Linked DNA regions of Homo sapiens. The protein of the gene in region 1 interacts with the protein of each later gene in a pairwise test. Each region holds a gene or a part of one and is shown in the gene's direction. Other genes may lie near its edges.

Evidence for each region.
Region 2: the proteins of ZNF124 (region 1) and BACH2 interact in binary tests that used the Homo sapiens proteins (3 or more experiments, as listed by UniProt).
Region 3: the proteins of ZNF124 (region 1) and SRRM4 interact in binary tests that used the Homo sapiens proteins (3 or more experiments, as listed by UniProt).
Region 4: the proteins of ZNF124 (region 1) and PDE4DIP interact in binary tests that used the Homo sapiens proteins (3 or more experiments, as listed by UniProt).

What each region holds. Positions count from the first base shown.
Region 1 is NC_000001.11:247,169,003-247,176,113, reverse strand, and holds the start of ZNF124 (zinc finger protein 124), read left to right. Parts: upstream 1-4,093; 5' UTR 4,094-4,236; coding exon 4,237-4,266; intron 4,267-7,111. UniProt on the Homo sapiens protein: May be involved in transcriptional regulation.
Region 2 is NC_000006.12:89,943,814-89,950,848, reverse strand, and holds part of BACH2 (transcription regulator protein BACH2), read left to right. Parts: coding exon 1-579; intron 580-7,035. UniProt on the Homo sapiens protein: Transcriptional regulator that acts as a repressor or activator. Binds to Maf recognition elements (MARE). Plays an important role in coordinating transcription activation and repression by MAFK.
Region 3 is NC_000012.12:119,152,518-119,159,552, forward strand, and holds part of SRRM4 (serine/arginine repetitive matrix protein 4), read left to right. Parts: intron 1-1,021; coding exon 1,022-1,132; intron 1,133-1,725; coding exon 1,726-1,866; intron 1,867-3,977; coding exon 3,978-4,281; 3' UTR 4,282-7,035. UniProt on the Homo sapiens protein: Splicing factor specifically required for neural cell differentiation.
Region 4 is NC_000001.11:149,029,420-149,033,543, forward strand, and holds the end of PDE4DIP (myomegalin), read left to right. Parts: intron 1-367; coding exon 368-506; intron 507-812; coding exon 813-859; intron 860-1,753; coding exon of another isoform or gene 1,754-1,805; intron 1,806-2,524; coding exon 2,525-2,566; coding exon of another isoform or gene 2,567-2,670; 3' UTR 2,671-3,597; downstream 3,598-4,124. UniProt on the Homo sapiens protein: Functions as an anchor sequestering components of the cAMP-dependent pathway to Golgi and/or centrosomes.

The sequences.
Region 1 (7,111 bases):
TAGGACTATATATATATACACATACACACACGCGTATATATATAGTCCTATATACATAGTCCTATATACAGATTTGCCCTATGTGTAACAACTACGTAGATAAAAAAGTTATGAAATTGTTTTTGGTTTTACAATGCTATATTAAAAACATTGAAATTCACCAATTGAACAATCTATGCAAGGGTATTATGGTTTTTTGTTATTGTTGTTTAAGTCCTGAAATACAGAGATAAGAGCTGAGTGAGCAGCCACTGGTGGAGAAACAGTCTTCACGGGGCCAGTATTTTTCTGCCCCGTCTCATTTGGCTGCGGATCAACACATGTCATTTAGTACAAACAAGCAAACAAAAATAGCAATATGCTTGTGTGCCTACCCCAGATGCTTTATGTGCAATAATGAAATGAGGAAGGGGAAGATAAGAGAATGGAGAAAAGGATACTGTACCAGCCAGAATGTGGAGTCAGAATGTGGTGTCAGAATGTGGAGTCAGAATGTGATGAAATCACATTGTGGGTTTCTACATGAGAATGTCTGCTGGAGTTGTAGGAAGAGGTCCTGGGTAAAGGAGCAGGTGTGTTCTTAGAAGGCCCTCCTGTCTGCTGCTGGAACACATCACCTGTTTATTCGTCCTCCATTTCCCGCTTTGCAGGTGTGTCAGTTTCACTGAGTGACCGTCCGTAAAATCCAAATCTGATTTGCTTCATGGCCAAACCCTGCCATTCACCATAGGCTTCCACTCCTTCATTCAGTGATGTGTACTTCTTCCCCTTCAACTGCGCCCCAGAACCATCCTACCCTCCACCTTCAAATTCACAGAATTGTTGTTCTGTCTTGACTCAAACTTTTTTCCTGCCACAGCAGAGCACTGAAAGTCTCTTAAGTTACAGCTTCACAACAGAAGTCTAAAGTCTGCGCAGAACTAGCACATCTGCAGCCGTAGGAGCAGCAGAATGACCAGGCAGCAGAGCTTTATTCCATGTTTTCATCTCCATTCCTACAACAGCAGCGGCAGCAGCAACAACTGCTACTACTTCTAATTGTGGTAAAAATACTTAGAATAATAATGCATAATGACAATTGTAGTTGACATTTTTGGTTTATATATGATTATTTGTAATGTTCTACAATTTACCTTTAGTAATATACACATAACTTTTGCATAAACATCAGGACCCTAAAACACCACACCTGATGATTGAATCTCACCTATGGACCTAAGGTCTTCACATGCTGGTGCAGGCCCTCTCACCACTCCATCTCCAAACAGAGGATATGGTCCACCTTCTGAGTCAATATAGTAGCCCTGACACTCACATGATCTATTTGAGGTCTTGGAAAACAAGCTTGCCTTGTTAAAAATCAAAGGATGGGCCGGGCACGGTGGCTCACGCCTGTAATCCCAGCACTTTGGGAGGCCGAGGCGGGCTGATCACGAGGTCAGGAGATGGAGACCATCCTGACTAACACGATGAAACCCCATCTCTACTAAAAATACAAAAAAATTAGCCGGGCATGGTGGCCGGCGCCTGTAGTCCCAGCTACTCGGGAGGCTGAGGCAGGAGAATGGCGTGAACCCGGGAGGCGGAGCTTGCAGTGAGCCGAGATCACACCACTGCACTCCAGCCTGGATGACACAGCGAGACTCCATCTTAAAAAAAAAAAAAAAAAAAAAAATCAAAGAATGGCTTCAAATTGTAGTCAGCTGTTTCGTTAAATTGCAGCAGGAAGAAATTTTTCTCAGCAGGTCTATTTTCATGTCACTTGCTTTCAGAGTAAGAGGTTATTTCAGACACAGTGGTTTGATTTAGTCTTTGTTGAAAATCATAAATAGCCTACAAACAACAAAAAGGGATGAATAGGATTTGCGTTCATGTGGAGTGCGTCATCTGTGCTTTTAAATTTATCCTATGAAAAGAAATAAAAAATATGTAATATCGAACATTGGTTTCCTAAATTAGCAAATCGACCATTTCCTCAAGTTATTCCACGTTCTTCCAAGATGTGTCAGAAGCATTCTCTGGAGGCAGTTGTTCCAAATGGTGAAGAGTACTAGATGGATCCCAATCTCACAGGATTCTTGCTTCTATTGCAGAAGAGTTACTTTCCAGGACTTCAAAGGTTTAGAGAAGCTGCTTGATTCGTGTGGCTTGCAGAGGTGCATGGGCTTTGGAGTCACGAAAAGTTAATCCTGGTCCCAGCCCAGCCTCTTAGTAGCTGTGAGGCTTTGCACAACTTCCTTGTCTTGGAAAGTTATATAAACCTCATCTGCAAGAAAAGGCATGATACTGATTGCAAAAATGGCAGCAACTCTTCATCCCTTCCTGTATTTATGCCCTTTGTGATGTGCTTTTATAGCTGCTTTCATTGAGAGGCAGAATCTGTTTCCCAAACCTTGAATCTCACTGGCCTTATTTGCTCTGGCAGTAGAAAGCTGTGAATATGACCATGTGCCAGTTTGGGGCCGAGGCACAAAAGCTCTTGAATGCTTCTGCTTTTTATTTCACAACCCTGTCATCTCCATAATAACAAGTCCATGTTAGCCTGCTAGAGGATGAGATACTATAGGGAGGAAAACCAAAGTGCCACAGTTGACAGGCAGCTCACCCTCAGAAGCAGCATTGCCTAGTCAACCAGCAGCTGACCACACGTGCCTGAAAGGGCCCAGCAGAGACCAGAAGAATGGCTCACTTGAGCCCAGCCTAGAAGGTGGACCAGCTCAATCTAATACGTTTTGGGGAATTTTACTGTGAAGCAATAGGTAATACGTACACCTAGTGCAGACAGGATGCCAGGATTCAATGACATGTTGATTGCAATTTACCAGGCAAACACAAGGCACCCTGTATGTACTGATTTCCTTTTCCCTTTATGTAAAGTTGGATTTCTGGTTAGACGGTGTTGAGCCATACAGAAGTGCACGTAGACATGCATGTGATTTGTGCTTAAACTCACACACTTAAATTCCACACCACAGGAGGAAACAGAAAACCACAGCCTGACCATTAGGGCCAAAGCCAAATTGCAAAATGAGAAGTTTGTCTTTAATGTATTCCCTCTACATCTAAAGTCCTGAGGTTAAGGCTGTGGACAAATCTGAAGACATGGGTTTTCTTCTCCTGGGGCCCCTCATCTTTTTTTCACTGTCTTATCTATAGAAGAGGCTGGGCCCCTGGCAAGAGCAGGTGGGAAATAGTAGACTCCCTCTAGATACTTCTTTATTGCAGCCCACTTCTCTCTCTGGGCACTGTCTCTGCCACCCTTGGGCCTGAGGAGAGATGTTAGCAGAAGGAGGGCATTCCCTCACCTCTAGCAGAAAAGAGGGGTTCGGGCCCTTCACTCCCTGAGGTCAGGGGAACCAGAGCCCTCAAAACTGCACTTCAGTGTGACAGTCATTGCCCACAGGGGTCTACTTAGCACCTAGAATGTGGCTGGTCTGAATCGGTACATGCTGGAAGTTTAAAACGCAGAGTGACTTTGAAAGATTTAGTACCAAAAAACAGAACAACAAAAAATACTTCATTAATATTATATTTATCATATATTTAAATTATAATATTTTGTATATATTGAGTTAAATAAAGTATTGCAATCAATTTTACCTGTTTATTCCTCGTTTCTGTTGCTACTAGAAATTTTAAAATGACACCTGTGGCTCACATGTGATTTCTGTGGAAATCGCAGCCTTGGAGGATTGCTTCCCTTTTCAAAACTCGGGCTCCTCAGACTGCTTCCTCAGAAGACCAGAGGCCATGAAGGTTAATAAGTCTGAAATTTTAAAAGAATTATTATTATATTGTTTCCTATTTTAAATATCATATATATTATTCACAAATGAATGTAACATTGTATACAAGGTTAAGTGTATATAAATGAATGTCCCCTAGGCAAGGCTGGGTCCCAACCCAGAGAGGAAACCCTCTTGGAGAAGAGCTGTAGCCAGAACGCTGCCTCATTCAGACACGCGCGGGAGCTGTCACCTGTCACTAAGAGTCTGAGGGGGCGGGGCCTGAGGCCCTACCCAATCAGGGGCACCGGGGCGGGGACTGCCTAATCCGGCGCTCCGCTAGAAAACCCGAGGCGGCTTCCGGGTGTGCCCGGCCTTTGTCTCTCGTGCCCGCACGTGCGTGTCTCGGTCAGTAGCCCTGCGCTTCTCCTTCACTCTCGGCGGTTCAGGAGGCTCTGCCGCAGCCGGGGCCCTCCTGTGACCTGCATGTACTGGGGGATTCGCAGGGAGGATGTCGGGACACCCCGGAAGCTGGGAAATGGTGAGTTGCGCCGCCGGGGGTCTGGAGAAGGGAAGGGGCTGTGGCGGCCCCGGGCCCCGGGCTCCCAGCGGTCGGCTCCCGAGGGCGGACCCGGGTCCCTGCTGGCGCGGCGCGGCGCGGCCCTCGGTCCTTTCTGGCGCCCGGCAGAGCTGGGCGGGCAGCGGCACCCCGGGCTCCGGTCCCGTCTCTGCACCGCGACTTCCGTCCTGCCCGAAGCAGCTTCCCTCCCCGGCCCGCGCCCGCAGCCCCGCGGCTCCTCGGGATCCTGCAGTGAGACCCGAGGCGCCTCAGGGGAGAGGCCCAGCGCGGTGTGCGGGCTCGCGCCTGCGAGGAGCTGTGGCCACTGGCGTTTCCAGTCCCTCCTTAATCCTGTTAAAAATTAAACTGAGGTTTAATTAAAGCGTTACAGAGTTTGAGCAAACAGCGATTCATGAGTAGGGGAGCACCCAGCCACGGTTTTTGGTTTGTGGGCCACCGGACGGTCTTGATGGAAAGGCTTCTGTAAAGTGTGTAAGGAAACAAACCAAATTTATTTATTTTTTATTTTAATGATCGGGTGGGGCGGGGGGGGGGTCTCCCTGTGTTGCCCAGGCTGGTCTTGAACTTCTGGTCTCAACCTCCCGAAGTGCTGGGATTACCCCGCCCAGCCCAAAGCAACCCCAATTTAATAACTGATTGGTTATAATTATGTAGTTCTGTTATTCGGATTATTTAGGTGGATGGTTCCTGGTTATGTAATCAGAGGTAAATTGCTGATTTGGGGTTAAGTTTTCTTTCCCTTCAAGTTAATTACAAGAAAGGCATGAAGTACCTTTAGGTTTTCTTGGTGAGGAACTCAGGGCACCATCATCACTTAAGGGAGGAGACCACCCCTCATATTGTCTTATGCCCAATTTCTGCCTCCAAAGAAAGAAGAAGTAAAAACTAAAAGGCAGAAATGAAATCCACAGGCAGACAGCCCGGCGCCGCGTCCTGGGCCTGGTTACAGATTGACCCTTGACCTGACCGGTTGTGTTATCTATAGATTCCAGACATTGTATGGAAAAGCACTGTGAAAATCCCTGTCCTGTTCTGTTCCGTTCTGATTGCCGGTGCATGCAGCCCCCAGTTATGTACCCCCTGCTTGGTCAATCGATCACGACCCTCTCACGTGGACCCCCTTAGAGTTGTAAGCCCTTAAAAGGGACAGGAATTGCTCACTTGGGGAGCTGGGTTTTTGGAGACGTGAGTCTTGCCAAAGCTTCCGGCAGAATGAAGCCCTTCCTTCTTTAACTCGGTGTCTGAGGGGTTTTGTCTGCAGCTTGCCCTGCTACAACTTCAGTCTAATTTCTTCCTATTTAATTATTTCCACAAGGGTACTGGTTTCCCCTGCATTTCCCAAATGTAAGGCAAGCAGGGTCTCAAATCCATGACCGTATTCCCCAGCCTAACTTCTAGAACTTGCAGTAAAATTCTAAATTTCCAGTTTCTTCCTCATACTCTCAAACTCCAACTTCACCTCTCCAATTTACAACATTATTAATTATTTGTTCTTTATTGTGCATTTGAACCAGATGCAGTAATGTAATTGTTTATCATGTTTTCACTGAGCAGTGAGGAGCTGTTTCTGAACATTCCTTGTGAAAACAGAGAATAATCACCTGATCTAGTCCACTATAAAAAATTCTTTGTACCTCTCCTCCTTTTGTCTTCCCTAGGCACACTCACAAACGTCTTTGGATGGAGGTTTCCCTTTGGAACCTTCACGTGGTGTTGTGTCCTCAGCCACCCTCCTGTCTTTTCTGGGTCCTGGGTTCAAAACTGTTTGAGGATGACCTAATGTGCCCACACTGGCCCTGTCTCTTGGAGTGTCATAAATAGTGAATGTCAGCTGTTGGGTCCTCTTCTCCCAGAAGACAAGGTGAGGTTTAGGGGTGGAGCCTCTCAGAGGAGCAGCTGGATGGCATGAATCCCCTGGGACCGAGAGGAGTCTCCTGGGATACTCTTCTATACTCTTCCTCTAAAAAGCTAATCCACTAGGACTTAGATTTTTTTTTCTTCTCTTACCCCCGTTATCACTCCTTAGAGACAAAATGCTGGTCAGGCAGTCGGATACTGGTATTGAGGGAAGAAAGAATTTCTGCCCTCTGGATTGTCTCATGCTTGTGAAGGGAGAACAGCTATTCCAAAGTACAAGGAAACCCCGCCCCGCAGTGAGGCAGGAACCTGAAAAGCAAAATGCATTTGGGGCACAGTGGGGACACGGCACAGGTTTCTGGGGGAGGGTGGGCATTGAGTACTTCCCTGAGCAGGATGGGGTGGGAGGACACAGTGGGGACACTGGGAGAGACACTGGTGTCATCCAATCCAATGCTGGTATTTTGAGGGAGAGACAGAAATGATTCCTGCCCTCTGGATTCTTTCACACTTGTGAAGGGAGAAAAACAACCTTAAAGAACAAGAAAATTTCTTCCCAGGAAGATGACACAAAAACCTGCCAAGCAAACTGCACCTTAGGCACACAGTGGGCCACAGTGCATTGCGCTGGGAGGTTGGTCCTTGAGTACGTGGTCTCTCCAATGAGGAGACCGGGGACCAGGGAATCTCCTGCTTGAGAGATGGTCTTACTTGACATGTGAGTCAAACATATCTGTGTTCCAGTTAGCGCTGCTCCTCCCTGGGCTGTCCTCTTGCAAAGCTTTGTTCATTTATTGGTGCCTTAGGTAAACATAAAATGTATTTCATCAATAGAGCTTTAAAGATAAAATATTTACAAAGAGGCAAAGAAAGAAGTGGATATTTTAAATATATGTAGATATTTTAAATCCACTTTATATATATATTTAGTTTTTTAATTAAAAAAATT
Region 2 (7,035 bases), on another chromosome or scaffold:
TGTAAACAGGAGGGAGAGCTGGACCGGAGGAGCGTGATCTTCTCCTCCAGCGCTTGTGACCAAGTGAGCACCTCGGTGCATTCTTATTCTGGGGTGAGCAGTTTGGACAAAGACCTCTCTGAGCCGGTGCCAAAGGGTCTGTGGGTGGGAGCCGGCCAGTCCCTCCCCAGCTCGCAGGCCTACTCCCACGGTGGGCTGATGGCCGACCACTTGCCAGGAAGGATGCGGCCCAACACCAGCTGCCCGGTACCAATCAAAGTCTGCCCTCGCTCACCCCCCTTGGAGACCAGGACCAGGACTTCCAGCTCCTGCTCTTCCTATTCCTACGCGGAGGACGGGAGCGGGGGCTCACCCTGCAGCCTCCCTCTCTGTGAGTTCTCCTCCTCGCCCTGTTCCCAGGGAGCCAGATTCCTTGCCACAGAACATCAGGAACCAGGCCTGATGGGAGATGGAATGTACAACCAAGTGCGGCCCCAAATTAAATGTGAGCAGTCTTATGGAACCAACTCCAGTGACGAATCCGGATCGTTCTCGGAAGCAGACAGTGAGTCGTGTCCTGTGCAGGACAGGGGCCAGGAGGTAGGGAACCCACATAAATTCAAGCATGTGACCCACTCTCTAGGCCCTTTATCTGGACTACTCCCTGCCCCCCACCACTCCCACATTGTTCTTACGTGCTAAGATTAAAGATGACAGTAGAGAGACTGCCTTCCCCATCCACAGAGGCAGGATGCTGAAGGTGATTCCACATTAACCACTTCTGTCCTAGAAAAGCACTTGATATTTGATCTGGATCTCAATACTCGACAAGCAGAGGCAAGCTGCTGAGTAAAAATATACTGAAGTCTAATGCATGAAGTACACTGAGGCACTCCAGACCCCCCTCTTTCTCCTCCCTCTCTCCCCCTCCTACACCTGCTTTGAAAGGATGCCATGTTCATCACCCTCATCCTTGCCCTTCACCCGTTCAGCGTAAAGGAAGATATAGAATCTCTTTCCAGATTGATTGATTGAAACCAAATAGATCAACACTCTCCCAGCACCTTTTAGATTTTCCTTGTCAACAGAAGACCCCAGGGCCATCCCATGTCCATCACAGTGAAGGTGATGGAAGCCTCACCGTTTATCCCGGTCCTGGGGTCATCACAGAAGCACCCTAGTCAGCCACACATAATGTATAATGGATCATTTCCCAAGCTCCCTCAAATGCTAGGAAGACATTTTGAGAAGTAGTGGGGTAGAGTAGCAGTTTCATCCACCCTGAAAGCAATGTACTTGCTAGGAAAAATGTCCAGAGGCTCCATGTGTGTCTTACCATTGCTGGAAGAGGGGAACAGGGGCAACAGCAGCCACATCGTGAGCAAGACTCACAAGACTAAGGAGAGGAAAGAAGAGGCCCCTGCAGAGGACCCACCTCCCCAATAACATGAACATTCCCTAGAAAGACCTGAGAGAGTCTGTGTCGTGACCTGGCGTTCACTGCACTGTCTTGCTGATTGACAAGGTACCAGCTTGAGACTGCTACCTGTGTCTCAGACCCCCCTCAGGAGCGGGATTGAACAAACCCAGTGACAAGTCCCTTCTCAGAGCTGTGTATCCCAAAAACACAGGAAGAAATGAAACATGGTCCTCCTGAGGCCGGCAACCTTGGTACCCATCTGTGCTCTCTGGATGTTACCAGCCTCTGTAAGGCAGAGATGTTAACCCAGCCAGAAAGCAGAAATGCCATACGGGATGAGGTGGCTTTTCACAGAGCCACGTGCAGTTTATTCAGCCTCTGCAAGATTGGCGAGAAGCACATGAGGTTTTAGTTTGGGCGTGTTTTGAAAATAGATGCCAAAGGCCCCTGTGCCAACTGCAAAAATGCCCTGTGGTCACTTTCTTTGCTTGCTAGCCTGGTTTCTGCCCCTCTCTTAACTGCCTAGCAGACATGGAGAAAGAGAAACACTGCAAGGATTTAATTTAAAATAAATTAGAAAGGAAATATGAATGGGAGCTATTCCCATGCGAATATACCACCTCCCCTTAGGTTTGGGGTGGTGGGTTGTGCCCAGTGCCCCAAGCCAGGCTCACATCTGTGTCCCTGACATTGGGAAGATTGAGCTTTCCCGAAAATAGTGAAAGGCTGTGTTTTCTCTCTCCTCACTCATTCTTTCCCTCTGACCTCTTTTGTGAGGTTTTCCTTTTGTTCTGAAACCGTGAATGAGCGTGCCTGATGTGGAAGGCAAGTCACTGCGTCCACCTCATCCGCATCATGGCTTCCTACCAAGGACTGGTGGAGGGAGAAGAGCACAAAGGCCTGCAGTCTTTGTTTTTTGTCTCTCCTTTAAGAGGAGCCTGGGGCCGGGCATGGTGGCTCAGGCCTGTAATCCTAGCATTTTGGGAGGCCGAGGTGGGTGGATCACTTGAGCTCAGGATTTCAAGACCAGCCTGGGCAACATGGTGAAACCCCATCTCTACCAAAAATATAAAAAAATAGCCAGGCGTGGTGGCTCGTGCCAGTAGTCCCAGCTACCTGTGGGACTGAGGTGGGAGGATCACTTGAGCCCAGGAGAAGGAGGTTGCAGTGAGCTGAGATGGTGGCACTGCACTCCAGCCTCGGTGACAAAGTGAGACCCTGTCTCAAAAAAAAATAAAAGGCTGGCCATTAAGCTCAAGGGAGGGTGGTGTTTTTATGACATTTGCATATGTTCAAAGAACTGTCAGTTTCAGATACATCTTCTTTTGTGTCCCCCCACCCTCGCCGCCAATATCCCAAAAGAGAGCTTAAAGTCTTGGGGCCACAGCAAGAACACATTTTTTGTGTGTATGTTGGGACCATGTCAGTTGTTTACTTTAGAACTAAAAATATTAACTCAATTAAAAGGAGGACTCATTCAACCTGTAAAATAGTCATGAACAGGACTAGCCTTCCCCCCTTGAGAAATACCGCTACTTTTAAAAATACTCTTATTTTTACCTTTAAAAAAGGAATCCATGGCTGGGCGCGGTGGCTCACACCTGTAATGCCAGCACTTTGGGAGGCCGAGGCGGGCGAATCACAAGGTCGGGAGATCGAGACCATCCTGGCTAACACGGTGAAACCCCGTCTCTACTAAAAAATACAAAAAAAAAAATTAGCTGGGCGTCGTGGTGGGCGCCTGTAGTCCCAGCTACTCAGGAGGCTGAGGCAGGAGAATGGCGTGAGCCCGGGAGGCGGAGCTTGCAGTGAGCCGAGATCGCGCCGCTGCACTCCTGCCTGGGTGACAGAGCGAGACTCTGTCTCAAAAAAAAAAAAAGAAAGAAAAATCCATCTTCTGCATTCCTGAACAGTGAAAGAAGAGACATTTACCAAAGCTCTATGCCATTTTGGAAAACATAGCCCCTCTCAGTGGTACAGTTTGGACAGGACAGTTACAGTAAAGTTAAGGTTTTTCCCAATTTGACATCTTAGTTTTCCTAGAGTAGAGGAGGTTAGGTTTCCAAGAACTGTCTCAGGGACTTGCCATGACTGCTGCTCGAGGAGTTGATAACCTGCTTTAGGGAGTTACTTTGACCCTGGTTGAAGTATTATCCCCAGTAATAGTGCTCAAGGCAGATCCTTCTCCACAAGTCAAAACTTGTTTTCCTGAACTGATCCAGAAGAAGCCAGCATCTATTGGGCTAATTCTGCCCTGCCCTGCTTTCATATGGGATCCAGGTGCCTTCTCTTTCAAGTGAACCCCACGGAGACACCAGAGTCAGAAATCAAGACAGGAGTTTCCACCCCTTGCCAGACGCCAGTGTAATACTTCGCGTGTGTTTTCCCAATCTGTCTTCCTCCACCCCGTAGGGAGCCAAAACGTTAGACCAAAAGTGAAGTGTTAACATACCTTGTATTCTGTAAGATGTTGTAGTTATACCGTGTTAAGCAGCCCTTCCATCTCACAGTCGTTGGCTTCTCCCATCCTTTTTAACTGTTCCCTGGCTTCGAGAAAGATCAAATTAGCGCAGTATTATCCTTTATCAATAATCAGCTTTTTAAAATGACATTCTTTTTTAAATTCTAGAACACAGCATACCCAGCCCCAAACATACCAAATTTAACAGGCTTTCTCTTTGCCTACAACAATATACAAATATATATTCACCTCTCTATGGGTTTGGGTTTTATTTTAATGGCATTATGTTGTAGAGTTAGCAGCTTCCTTTTTTCACGTAGCTGTCTACCATGCACGTGGCTGTAGGTCGATCACACAGGGCCAAGACATGTTTCTCCAATATCTCTCGTTCTCGTAAATCGTAGTTCATTCAGCTGTCACTTATCACCAGACATTTCAGTTGTTTTCAGTTTTTCCCTCTGATAAACATTGCTGCAATAAACATTTTGTGACCCTACTGTTAGTAGTGGTGCATTTATTTTTGTGGGTTAGTTTCAAAGATGGGCTAAAGGTTGTGCCCATTTATTAAATACTACCTAATGACCTACCCAAAATGTTGTAGCAATTCACATATTCATCAGCAACTTAGAGTGTCCAATTTCCCCTATTCTTGCCCATACTAGTTGTCACCAGTCTTTTTAATTTTTGCCAATTTGATGGGCAAAAAAATGGTGACTACTAATGAGGCTGACATCTTGTTTTATGTGTATTGAACATTTATATTTCCTTTCCTGTGAATTGCTGGTTTACCTCTTTGCCTATTTTTCTTTTGTATTGTTTAACTTTAAATCAACATGTAGGAATCTTAATCCCTAATATTAGGAATATTAACCCTTTCTCATAAATGTTGCTTAGATATTCCCTTAGTCTGCTTCTTTATTTATTGTACCTTTTCCCATATAAAAAAATATTAGTTTTATGTAGTCAAGGTATAAGTCTTTTTCTTTATGACTTCTGGATTTGCTATATTCCTTAAGAAGTCAGGTTGGGAATTTTTCTCTTCCAGTAAAAAAAAATGAACAAGTCACATAAGTGAAAATCACAAAGCAGTATGCACAAGGTCCTAGTTTGTTTCCTAAATATACACACCATATAAATAAAATCAGCATAGAGAATAAGAAAAAACTGGGAGCACCGTTGGAGAGGAGTGTAGGGAAAGTTTCATTTCTATGTATGTCTGTAATGTTTGAATTTTATGTATGTCTATCTTGCACAGGTTTATTTTTTAAATTAAGACATAATTCCCATATCATAAAATCCACCCTACTAAGATGAACAATTCAGTGGTTGTTGATATATCCACAATGTTGTACAACCATCACCACTATGTAATTCTAAAACATTTTCACCACCCTAAAAGGAAATGCTGTACCTATTAGCAGTTACTCCTCATTGCCCACTCCCCTCAGCCCCAGGCAACCAGTAATCTACCTTCTATCTCTGTAGATGTACTTGTTTGGGGCATTTGTATAAATAGAATCTTGCAAGATGTGGCCTTCTGTGTCTAGCTCCTTTCACTTTAGCATAATGCTTTGAAGGTTTACCCTTGCCATTGATGTACTCACCAGGTATATTGTCATGTATTAGTACTTTGTTGCTTTTAATTCCTGAGTAATATTCCATAATGTTGATCCATTTTGTTGACTAATACCACATTTTGTTGTTCATTGGTTGAGGGCCATGTGGGTTGTTTCCACTTTGGGGCTATTATAAATAATGCTGCTGTGAGCATTTGAGTACAAGTTGTTTTTAAGACATGTTTTCAGTTATTTCCATAATATTCCTAGGAGTGGAACTGCTAAATCATATAACTTTGTATTTAACCTTTTGAGGAGCTACTAGACTGTTTCCAAAGTGGCTATACCATTTCAAATTCCCACCAGCAGTGTATCAAGGATCCAGTTTCTCTGCATCCTCGCCAACACTTGTTATTGCCCATCTTTTTTGTTAGTGCCCTCTAGTGGGTGTGAGTAGTTATGGTTTATCTCATTATGGTTTATAGGTTTGTTTTTAGATGTTGGAAATTATAGAAAATTACAGTCATTTTCCAAAGTAGTAAGCCTCTTAGTAAGACAGCTTTGTAACTGGACCATTTCTACTTAATTGTAGATTTTAGTAAAGAAGCACCACAGAGAGTTTCTTTGCACAGTCAAAAGTATGGATTTTTGGACTTGCTTTATTAACATGTTTTACACTGAGAGAGATAAAAGTGTATGAGAGTAAGAGAGTGTGTTGGGGGCAGGCAGGGGGCGGGAGAGAGAGAGAGAGAAGGGAAGAGAGAGATAAAGTCCAGAGAAAACATGGAAATGGTACAGAATAGAAGAGCCATCTGACTCTAACTCTTCCCACCCCAATGCTGACTTTGAGACACATGTTGTATGTAAAATTTTCACAATCATTTTTGTGGTTTGGTGAATCAGGCAAGTTTTTAGAAGTGTCTGTAATTGGTCTGCTTAATAAAAAGAAACCTTGCTGGGCAGCATAGAAATCAGCCATATTTCTAATTAAAACAGTGTTTTTATGTTGTCTAGAACATTGTAAGTGTCTGGAATTCCAAAGCACATGTCTGTAAGACGAAACCATGTGACAGAGATAGATAGGGCTAATAAACAGAAATAATAATACCTTGTATCTATCAGGCAGTTGAAACTTTCCCAGGCACTTTCTCCACCTGTCATCCAGTTGTATTCTTCATAGCAACCCTGTAAGCTAAGTAGGGCAGGCGTTATCGCCCTGTGACTCCTAGATCCTCCAAGAACTTTGGGACAGACAGAATGAAGACTTGCCTGAGATCACACAACTAATTAATTGACGTATCACAACTGAATCCCAGGTGTCCCATATTTGTGCTAGAAACTGGACCATGAGAAGAGGGCGTGGAAGGACAATTGCGCGAGAAACATTTCTTCACCTGGGAGGGGAGATTTTGTCATTGCCATCTGCCCAGCACTGAGCTGGCTGTCCTGGTTCCAGCAGCACTGGAATCATCTCCAATGGGCATATTGCTTCCTCCCTCGACAGCTCCCTGGGATCTGAGGGTCTCCTCAGAGTACAGGCGTTAAAGACTTCGGAGAGCTGACCACACCATCAGTGTCTCAGGGTATCATGCTAATGTGACCCTACTCCCATGGGTTTC
Region 3 (7,035 bases), on another chromosome or scaffold:
TAAGAATTGAACCAGTTGCTCAGAAGAGCAGCTATTTCAGGTTTTTAATTCTATGAAAAATGACTCAGATGGCTCCACAGAAAAGGGACTCTATATGGTGCAGTGAATGGAAATTCTGATAATATCCTTTCAAAGTATCCAAAAACAGGTTTCATCTTGACTCTTTCTTATATCTCTCAATGCATAGCCAAAGCATAAGTTGGCAAAAGCACATTTTTCCAGTGACCATAGCTGGACACTGCTGAGGGCACTGAGAAGGGAAGAGCTATTCCTGCCCCTGTTTTCTAAAAGTGGGAGGCATTAACAGAAAGCAAAGAAGACTAGGAGGAGCATAAGGATTAGTCATGTAGATGCACAACAATATAGTCTACAAAAATCAAGAGCACTTTGAAACCAAACAGACGTGAATTAAATTTGGCTTAGAGGCAAACAGTCCTGGGTTCACATCTCTTACCAGCTGTGTTTAGCGAAGTGCATCATCTCTCTGTGCCTCTGTTTCCCCATCTATAAAATGAAATTGATAATAGTACCTAACCCTAAGATGTGTTGAGGATTAAATAATACACACAAAGCACTGGTTCAATGTCTGGCACATAATAAAATATGTCATAGTCATAGCTAACATTTCCTATGTCCTGTCTAATTGATACTTAGCATAGGTGCCAATATGCTATGTGATTTACCCGAATTCACTCATTCAATTTACAATTGTCTAGGGTAAGGACTATTATTACCTGCATTTTATAGACAAGAAAACGGCCCAGGGAAACGAAATCATCTGCCAAGGTCACACAGCTAGTAAGTGGCCAGGATAGTAGGCACAAAATAGAAGTTGTTGGTATTATTATTAACCACCGGTGGGGAGGGGCTTTCATTCTTTGATCGGGGCCCAGTTCCTCTGCCTGGCTTCCAGAAAGAAAAAGGTCACTGCCCAGGGACCCGCTGAATAAAGCTCAAGCCGTCTTGGATAACCCAGGCGGACACTCAGCAGGCTCCTCAGAGGCTGTTACCTCTCCCCCAGGTCCTACTCCCGCTCTCCCAGCTATTCCTCCAAGTCTGGCAAGAGGAGCCCGCCCAGCAGAAGCTCTAGGTCCCGCCGCAGCCCTAGCTACTCCCGCTACAGCCCCAGCAGGTACCGGCCCCGCCCCTCAAACTAGGCCCGTCCTAGGCCCCACCCCTTTGCTCTGATCCTCCTCTCTGGCCCCGCCTCCCCGTTCTCGGGCCTTCTTCCTCTTAGGTCTGACCCTGACTCAGCATTCTTACAGTTCCCTTTGTCCAATCAGGAGTGGCAGCGAGGCATCAAATACCCTTGTTTCCTAATGTCTCCAGCCCAAACAGTCCCGCAGACATACCCCAGAATTCACATCCCCAGCCCTCAGCCTCTACAGACCGTCCCCATATTCAGAGCCCCCAGTTCTTACCCACGCACCAGGGCCTGCGTAACATTCACGTCCTCACCCCTGCAGCACCTGCCCTGCTATGATGCCCACCTGCAAATGCTGACACCCCTGCACAAGCCCAGCCCCCACCCCTACGGTACTAACAACCCTCGCAGACTCTTACCGCAGCCCCGTCATCCTCCCTCCGGTCTCCCTTGCGGCAACGTGCAGACCCCATCCCGTGACCCAGTGGGGTGGGAAAGAAAGGGAGTGTCCCTCTCCCACGCGCTCACGCAGAAAATCCAGCCCAGCCCCAGCTCCCCAGTAACCCCCCGCGCCCCTTCAGGGAGCGGGATCCCAAATACAGTGAGAAGGACTCGCAGCAGCGGGAGCGCGAGCGAGCGCGTCGGAGACGTCGGTCCTACTCGCCTATGAGAAAGCGCCGGAGAGACTCCCCGAGCCACCTGGAGGCCCGGAGGATAACCAGGTGAGGCCAGGGGGCAAGGGGGACCCACCTTCATCCTCGTTCCCACTCCCATTCTTACTCATTCGAGCCTCAGGCTCTCCCTAGGCCTCCTTGGGGCTGGGATTTAGGATTGTGCGAGCTTATGGTCCCCCCAACCCCAACATCATTGAAATTACGTGTCTGTTCAAAGCCTTGGGACTGAGTCTCCCAGCTCAACCAGCAGGGCCTGCAAGAAGGGGGCGGGGCCAGCCTGAAGAATCGGGTGTGGCATGGGGGAGTGGCCAAAGCCTGAGGGTGGAGCTGGGGCCGGGGAGGTGGAGCTGGGGCCGGGGAGGCGGAGCTGGGGGAGAGAGTGGCGTCAGGCCAGGGAATGGAGGCCAAAGCAATGGAGCAGGACCTTGGCCTGGTGGTGGATCCCGAGCAGCGGAGACAGACCTCTACCCTCAGACCTGTACACTCAGCTGTCAGGCTTAAATAAACCTATATGTAATTATACCTTGAACCAAGTGTGGAAAGGACAAACAGGATTGCTTAGTTCCCAAAGGGACCTAGAGGGAGCCACGGTGGATAAGCCGGAGAGCACTGGATGTGGATTGGAATCCTGAATGTACCACTTTGCAGGTGACCTAGGAAAGGCTCTTACCTTCCTGAGCCTCAGTTTTCTCACCCATGAGATATTGGAAGAAATAACTCCCAGAAGCATGAGGATGAAATGAAAAGGGGCAAAAAGATGTGAACGTGCTTTGTAAACTTGAATGCAGAGTACACAATGTGCCATTGTTGATTGAATGGTCAGAATAGGTGGATACCGTTCCTGGAACAGGTAAGGCCTCAGAAGAGAAAAGCTCTAGCAGAGAAGTCTGAGTGCAAGCAAATTTCTCAGGCCTTGAAAGCTGGGAGAATGATTGAATGCTGCCCTAAGATTGGGTTGGGCTCTTCCTGCTGGCCTTCCAGGCATCTGCCACTCAGTCCAGACACTGGACTGAGGAATCAGGGATTCTCCCTGGAGATGACCTGGAGGAGGAAAAAGAATGTGTTTCCCAGATAGCAAGGCTGGGGTGATGGGTCCCCTTCTCCAATATCCCACAGGGCACCCTGCCTCAGCTTGTAAAGAATTCCTAAACCCTTGGGAGGCCAAGGCAGGCGGATTGCTGGATCTCAGGAGTTTGAGACCTGCCTAGGCAATATGACAAGACCCTGTCTCTACCAAAAATACAAAACACTAGCCAGGCATGGTGGTGTGCACCTGTGGTCCCATCTACTTGGGAGGCTGAGGTGGGAGGATCATTTGAGCCTGGAGTGGGGTGGAGGTTGCAGTGAGCCGAGATCGCACCACTGCATTCCAACCTGGGTGACAGAGCGAGACCCTGTCTGAAAAAATGTAATTAATATAATATAATACAATATAATTCCTAGCATAATTTCTAAACCCACTCCCTTGATCCAGTGTCACACAGCTATTAAGTGGCCAGGATAATAAGCACAAAATAGAAGTTGTTGGTATTATTATTATCTTTGGGGTCAACCTAGAGGAAAGCTAAGATAGAGAGTGGCATTTCCAAATGGCTGTCTAGTTTCTTTAGTCAATCTCAAATAATTCATCTTGATTAACCCATTCAGTGTTTCCCAATCTTTAGTCATTCACCAGTATCTTGACCACATATGACTTGTCTGTTTATCAACTGTACTATTCTTAATTTTCTTTAAATAGATATGACTCTTTTCAAAGGTTCATACATTTATTTCTAAAGGAAACGATACAGTACAGTAAATGGAAAATTAGCCTCTTTTGCCATAAATAGATGGTTCTAGTAAAAGTAAAAATAGGAAAACAAAACTATGATTAAAGTTTAGATGTAGATTCTGTTGCAAGCTGAAGGCTCTGAGCTCCAGGCTTGCTTCATGGGGGAAAGAAAAAAGTGAGATAATCATTTTTCAAGACATACTAGCACTAAGCTGAGACTTTTACTTTGATGTGTTCTCAGCACTGCAAGAGAAGTGGAAAGGGAGTATTTTTTCCTAAGGGACTGGGGAAAGGGAGGATATTGGTTTCCCTTGGGACAAGACTGGGGCTCGCTGCGGGGAGGCACGGAGGGGCCGGCCCTCATCCCTCCTCTCTCTGGTCTCTGCAGTGCCCGGAAACGCCCCATCCCCTACTATCGGCCCAGCCCCTCCTCATCCGGCAGCCTCAGCAGCACCTCCTCCTGGTACAGCAGCAGCAGTAGCCGCTCGGCCAGCCGCAGCTACTCCCGGAGCCGGAGTCGGAGCCGGAGCCGGAGACGGAGCCGGACCCGCACGAGCAGCAGCTCTAGCTCCCGCAGCCCTAGTCCGGGCTCCCGCAGCCGGAGCCGGAGCAGGAGCCGGAGCCGGAGCCGGAGCAGGAGCCAGAGCCGGAGCTACAGCTCAGCAGACAGCTACTCCAGCACGAGGCGCTAAGTGCCCCTGAGCCAGCTGCCCGTGGGGGCCCCTTCGCGCTGCCAGCCTCCCCCAACCACCTGCCCTCCCCGCCTTCTTGGTGACAAATAGTGAGGGCTCCTATACCTTGTCCTTCCTGCTTGCCTAGGGGAAGAGGAGAAGAGGGTAAGGGGGCTTCACTCTCTAGATCAGCCTGCTAGGAGCCTCTACCAGCATCATCCTGGGGCCCAGCTCAGGCCTGGGCATATGGAAAGAACCATCATCTTGTGGCACAAAAAAAGAAGAAAGAAAAGAAAACTTCAAGGTTTTGTGAGAAGCAATGGGTCTGTGACTCAAAAATTGAGCCCTGGCCAGGAAAATGTGGAGACAGTTCTTCTCCTCCACTGCTCACAGGAGGCCCGTGGTAATTCTCCCCACCTCCCCGGATGCCCCACTAGTCCAACTTCATGGCTGCACGTGGATGGACCCCCATGTCTGAGAGGGGTGAAAGAGGAGACCAATGGCAGTTCAGGTTCAAGATAACGGGGTCAGGCCTTTAACTTCCTCAAACAGGCCCAAGCAAAGGCTGGAAGACATTTGGGTCCTAGAAGAAGGGATATCCTTGAATACCAGATGGGGACGTTTGACTTGGTGGGAGGTGTCAGGAGATAGGAGTTGGTTAAGATGATAGATAGAAAAACGGAAGGGTTCAGCTGCTGCTCCCAATACCTCAGCATGGTAAGGGGACAGAGCCCAGCAGATCCCAGCTGTGAAGAGGCCACTGCATGGCTGACACAAAACACCTCTTGGCCATTCACAGGGGCCCTGCAACCTCACGAGAAAGGAGATAGTGGAAGAGTCAGGACAGGTTGGTCTCCAGCCCCACTTCCCAAATATGCCTCAGCCCCACTAGCTGGCACCAACTTAATTCCACGGGACCATCTGCTGAACATTCCCCAGTGCCATGGCCAGTTGCCAGGCCCCAGCGCCAGCCAGTCTGGCCTTACCCTCCGGTTGGCGCCTGCCAGCCCCCTCCCCTCTGCCCAGGCTGCCACGCCCTGGATGCCACCCAGTGCAGCCTGGCACCTACCCACCCACCCTTCAGCTTAAGCCACTCCCCTTGCCTCTCAGGAATTTTGCCAGGATGGGGCACAGCAGCTCAGGTTTGGGGGAAAAGACCCGAATCCAGAGTGCAGGGGAGAGGGGCTTGGATATGCCATGTCTTGGGCTCCTGCTGGCTTCTGAGGTTTCTTGTCAGCTTGGGAAAGACCCACCTTTATTTTTGCCCTCACCCCAAGTCCCCCCTGGCTGGGGCTGGGCAGAGAGGGTAAGCTGATCTCCGATCCACAAATACCACCAGCTGCTTCATCCACAGAAGGCGCTAAGAACGGGGAGGTGAGGAATAAGATCCTTAAAATAAACTCTTGGGCATCCCCCTCACCAGCTGACTGGCTTTCCGGAGGCTTGTGGGTGAGTTTCAAGTTTGTGGTGGCAACAGCAGCAGGACAGGGCACGGAGGGAGCGAGGGAGAGAGGACCGGTCCCAGCTTTTGGATATTTTGGGTTATGGGGAAGCAAGGGCCAAACATTCTTTATCCCTCCCACCCCAGGGAAAACATTTGGAAAATAGTCCTTTTTCTTGGAAGCAGTGACGTCTCCCTACCCAATCTTTCCCATCCTATCAACCCATGGGGCTAGAGACTGCCATGCAACCACCACCACGACAGCCCTTCCTCCATCAGAAGACAGGAGTGAGGGCCCCGGGCAGCAGTGGACGACCCAGCCTCCCCATACCGGGCCTCTGGCCCAGACCTAAGCCCTGCCCACAAAGACTAATGGATGCCAGTGCTGTCACTGCAGAAGGCCAGATGGCAGGTGCCTGGGACAGGGGCAGGTGCCCCGGGGAGGGCAAGTACAGCCACTGTAAATAACCCTCGTCCCTGCCCAGGAACCCAGACTGGACTTCAGTCTCCCTCCATGGAGACAAAGGCTTCCCAGAGCCACCAAAAACCTTCTTAGCAGGACAGCTGTGAGAGGCATCAGAACCTCACGTTCGGACTGCCTTCATCAAGACAACTCTAGGGGACCATTTTGCCTGGGGCTCCTAGCAAACCTTTTTATTTATTTTATTTATTTATCTATTTATTTATTTGATGACTGTCTCTCTTTCTCGCCATTAGCAGTATTGAATTATTTATTTATACAGAGGTTTTGTGTGTGTGTGTGTGTGTGTGTGTGTGTGTGTGTGTGTGTGTGTGTGTGTTGGGGGGATCTCCTAAATTATTTCTGTGCATCTCCTTTTTTTTTCTGCTGTTTTTTATGGATGGGATTTGAGAGGCCAAAGGTGAGTGGGCTATTGGCCTTCTCCCTGAAGGCTCTAAGCCTGGAACACCCTGGGGTTGGCCCAGAAGGAGGCACATCAGTCCCAAAATTCATCACTTAACCCAGCGTCCAGGAGGGTCAGGCCTGTACCCCAGCCTCCTGTCCCCCAGGAACCTCACAGGGGTATCAAAAAGATGTAAACAGCCCAGAGGCTTATGAGCTACAGTGATGAATTGACACAGTGGAGTTGCAACTTAGGTGGGGGTTGGAGTCGAAAGTTGGCAAATGGGGCCAAGGCTGCACAAAGTCGAAATCCCTTGTGAATGTCCCTTAGGGAGGCACCAGATTGGAGACAGATGTGCTATCTCCTAACAGAGTGATGAGGCTTCAGTTGAGTACTTGCTGAAGTAGTTGCCTTGTATTTTGAGGGCCATGGTGGATGAAAATGATGTCTGGTTTAGTACTGGAATTGCAC
Region 4 (4,124 bases), about 98 Mb from region 1:
CAGCATAACACTTCTGAACTCTCAATCTTACCTGTGAAGGGAGAGTGACAGAACTGATATCAGGACTAAAGCAAGGTCCTCTTCAGAGTTGGGAGTTTGATACCAGCCTGAGGCGAGGTTCTCTTAAGCTACAGGTGTGTAGGCCTGTGCTAGTCTGCATGGGGAATTCCAGAGTCTCATTATTCCTGCCTAATGGCCTCATCCTGAACTGTCCTCAGCTGGAGGTATCCGAGGCTGTGAAGGAGGAAATCCAGTTCAAGAGAGTTGAGAAGACTGTAGAATCCTTCTTTGAATTGGAAAGAGCCACAAAGCACAGGGTGCTTTAGGCCTTCTGCCTGGTCAGTAAGAGTCTGTTCCTCTTATCCAGGGAGAATCAACAGAAAGGGAACTTCTGGAACTGAGAACCAAAGTATCCAAACAGGAGCGACTCCTTCAGAGCACAACTGAGCATCTGAAGAACGCCAACCAGCAGAAGGAGAGCATGGAGCAGTTCATCGTCAGCCAGCGTAGGTTCCCTGAGAGGGAATGGGGGAAGAAACAGGCAGTCTTCCCGATGCCCCACTTGTGCTGCAGATGAGCAGTGACCAGGGGGGCTTGGGGATGTTGGGAGTTGAGACTGATTTGATGTCCCCAAACCTCCTGTACCAGGAGCAATTGTGGCTGCAGAGGGAGGGGAGGACAGGGGGTGGATAGAAGGAGACTCCAAGCTGAATAGCCAGAAAGAAATAAATGCTTTAGAATTCTCATGCTAAGCAAGTAGGGTTAATTTCTGCTGGTGGTTTCTACTCTGTGGTGCTCTTTTGTTGTTTCAGTAACCAGAACACATGATGTTTTAAAGAAGGCAAGGACTAACTTAGAGGTAAGGAAACTACTGCACCAGTCAGAGGCACCAAGCCTGTCCCCCACCCATCACCATCCGTTAGCAGATCTTGTAGGTGACCCTTGGCCTGCTTTGGCCTTCCAGGAGAAGACTTGGGGTCCACTTGCAAGATCACAGGTCCTCAGTGAGCATCCTGCTAGTTTCTGTCCCCATCACCCTCCCACCCCGTCAGCTCCTGCCCCTGTATCTTGGTTCACTCTCACATTGTCATCATCTCTCCTTTTTACTCCAATTTTTCTTCTTTGAGGCCAAGTTCAGAGACTGGAGAAATGCAATTCAGCTGACTCTTGAAGTCATTAGACATTCGGGAGTCTGCCTCTGAATGAGCTTCTAGTAGAGGGATCTTGAGGCCAGTTATGTGTTCTACTCTTCATGAAAAAGTAAAAGCAATTTGCAACCTAATAAACTGATTTCACTGCACATTCCCGGGTTAAGAACAGCAATTTGATTTTGCTATATCTTTAAGTAACATGACAAAAGAGATCTGTTGGGTCTCATTGGTCTAAAAGCGAATTTGTTAATAAATAACAACTGAACCTTCAGGGAAAAAATGTTATATATGTACCAGACATTATCTACATTTACTTAAAACACTAAGTGTTAATCATTCCCTAGGAAGTGCTTTGAAGAAAAACTTGAGGTATATGAAATGGTTAAAAATCAGAAACTAAACCTTTTAACATGGACATCAAAGCTTTGCCATAAGCAATTCAGCATATTCCTAGAAATGTTTCTAATCCATAACCTGAGAGAATGTTGATCTCCATAGTGTGAAAATGACTTGGGCCAGTTTAACTTGCTCTTTTTTTTATTTTTTCACTAATTCCCTTTTGTTTTTCTCTGATAATTCTTCTCTTTCCTGAGCCTCTTTAGAGCAGCACTTACAGGATTGCCTCTGTAAAGCCTTATTCCTGTCCCAGAAAAGGTAATCCAAAAAGTCTCTAGTATCCACTAAAAGGTAACCCAAAAATCTCTAGTATCCACTGGCTTTCTCCAGTGTGGAAGCTTTCCCCTCCACCTCCCATAGATCACTGGAAAGGACCCGAGGCCTCGGTTCTAATCCCTGGCTTATCACTAACTGCTGTGTGGCTTTGGCTTGTCCCTTAGTCTCTGTGAGACTGCTGCACCCTCATCTGTCAAAGATGGAACTGGACTTAGTTGAGCTCTGAGGTCCCTGTGGACTTGGCCCCTCCACACCCTCATTATGGCAACTGGACATAAACTTAACAGAGGGCTTCCCAGCAAAATGTCCTCTTCTTCCTACAAACAGGCTGTTTCTATATGTGCATGTTTCATGCTAAGCACTTCTTTCTTGGGTGGACATGGCAAAGGCCTCTTTCTGCTGAGACAAAGTGATTTGGAGAGTCACCTGGCCCCTGAAGGGGGAGTGGTAGGATCCAGCCACCCAGTGTGCAGTGAATTGGAGCAGGGATCTCAGCACACAGGGAGGTGGGGAGGCTCCCCCTAACCTCGGGCACCTGTTGCTCCTCCAGACTGCAGCGCATGCTCTTAGCTCATCCTCTTAACTGGCTCTCACCGTGCTCCTGGCTTTGGTCACCACGTAGCTCTCACTCCAGCTTCAGGTAGCCATCAGTAGGGCCTGGCAATATACACTGATTTGGTTTGTTTTATGTTTGTCTGCAGGTGAAATCCCTAAGGGCTCTGCCATGTACTCCAGCCTTGTGACCCTTGCCTTCCAGGAACCATGCAAGAAGCGCAGCCACCAGAAGTCCTTAAAACAGCAGGAAAGGTGGGCCTGTCCCCCTTTTGTGCAGCTACCTATCTGCTGAGGAGCATCTGGGCCTCATTCCTCCAAGTCCACGGGAGGGTCCAGAAGAGGGAGTCAGAGATGTATCCTGGTGGAGCTGGGAGAAAGGCAGAAAGCCTTTCTGACGGCTATGGAATACGATTAGCCAAGGTCCACTTGGCCCAGCACTAAGAAAAAGATGCGTAGTTTGCACAGAAGGTTTTGTGATCCTGCCTCTCAACAGCCCCAGCAGCTTGGGAACTAGCAAGAGCACATTTCTTGCCTCATCAGCTGTCCTGAGATGGAAAACTCAGTGAATATAGGACCCTGATTCCGATGAAAGGGGCACGTGGTCCCAATGCTGGAGCTCCTCTGGCAGGTTCTAAAAGCACACTACTGAGCAGCGGTGCCCTGCCGGACACTGCTGGCGGGGGCTCAGTGAGCACTACTCACAGATCCACACCTGACCCTGTTGGGTCGAGTCAGGCTGGGCCTTGGTCTGCACTGTAGCACCTGTGTTCTTTGAGTTCACATCATGAATGTGGTGACTTCCCAGATACCATCTCAGGCTTAACCTAGCACATCCTATTTCTTTTCTTCTATGATATCCAAATTGGACTGACCTCACTTCAAAGTTGCTGTCCCATTTTGTCACCCTATCTTATCTCGGGGAAATTGCAGACTGATGGCCAGACCAACTCTGTTGAAATTCTTGCATAGAGCAAACCTGTGCTCATTTTTAAGTGGCATGGGAGAGGCCCCAAGCCTAGTAAAGCCTAGTCTGTGTCTTCACAGTGCTGGTAGAATGTGTTTGTGTGTATAAATATATGATATAGATTTATATATGTTGCTAACGCCATATATTGAAGGCCAACATAACTGGTGGACAGGGTGGGTGACAGAAAATGAAAGTCTTTTTGGTGATTGTTAAAGCAAAATGTGTATAAAGAAATAAATAGTTTTTCTTTCACTGCTTTGTTTCCCATTTCTGCACCAATCCCTTGACAGTATAAAGAACTGGAAAGAGAAAATGGGAAAGACAAACTGTGTTTAAGAAGCATATAGTCTAATGCTTGAACTCTAACTTTAAAAGATTAAGGTTTTCCTTCTTTGTCATTTTGTAAGAATCCCCAGTCTGAAAATATGAAAGAATGGTTCTTAAACTTGGTGTGCCTGAGAAGCAGCTGTGGAGATTATAGGAGCTACCTCCTGGTCTCCAATCCCAGGAGATTTAGTTGGTGTGAGCCCTAGAATCTGCATTTTTTTAATATAAGCACCCCAGGTGATTCCATTACATGTGGGCTTCAGATCACAGTTTAAAAAACAGTGTTCTATAACATTGAATCAAAACTAAAACTACATTTAAGAACCTTGAATCAAAAAGTATGTCATTCCATAAACATTGATATAAAAATTTTAAAATATTCCTTGGGAAAAGTTCTTAGCTACATGCTTTTGATTCCCAAGATTAAAATAAGCTATCACTTCACAATTATG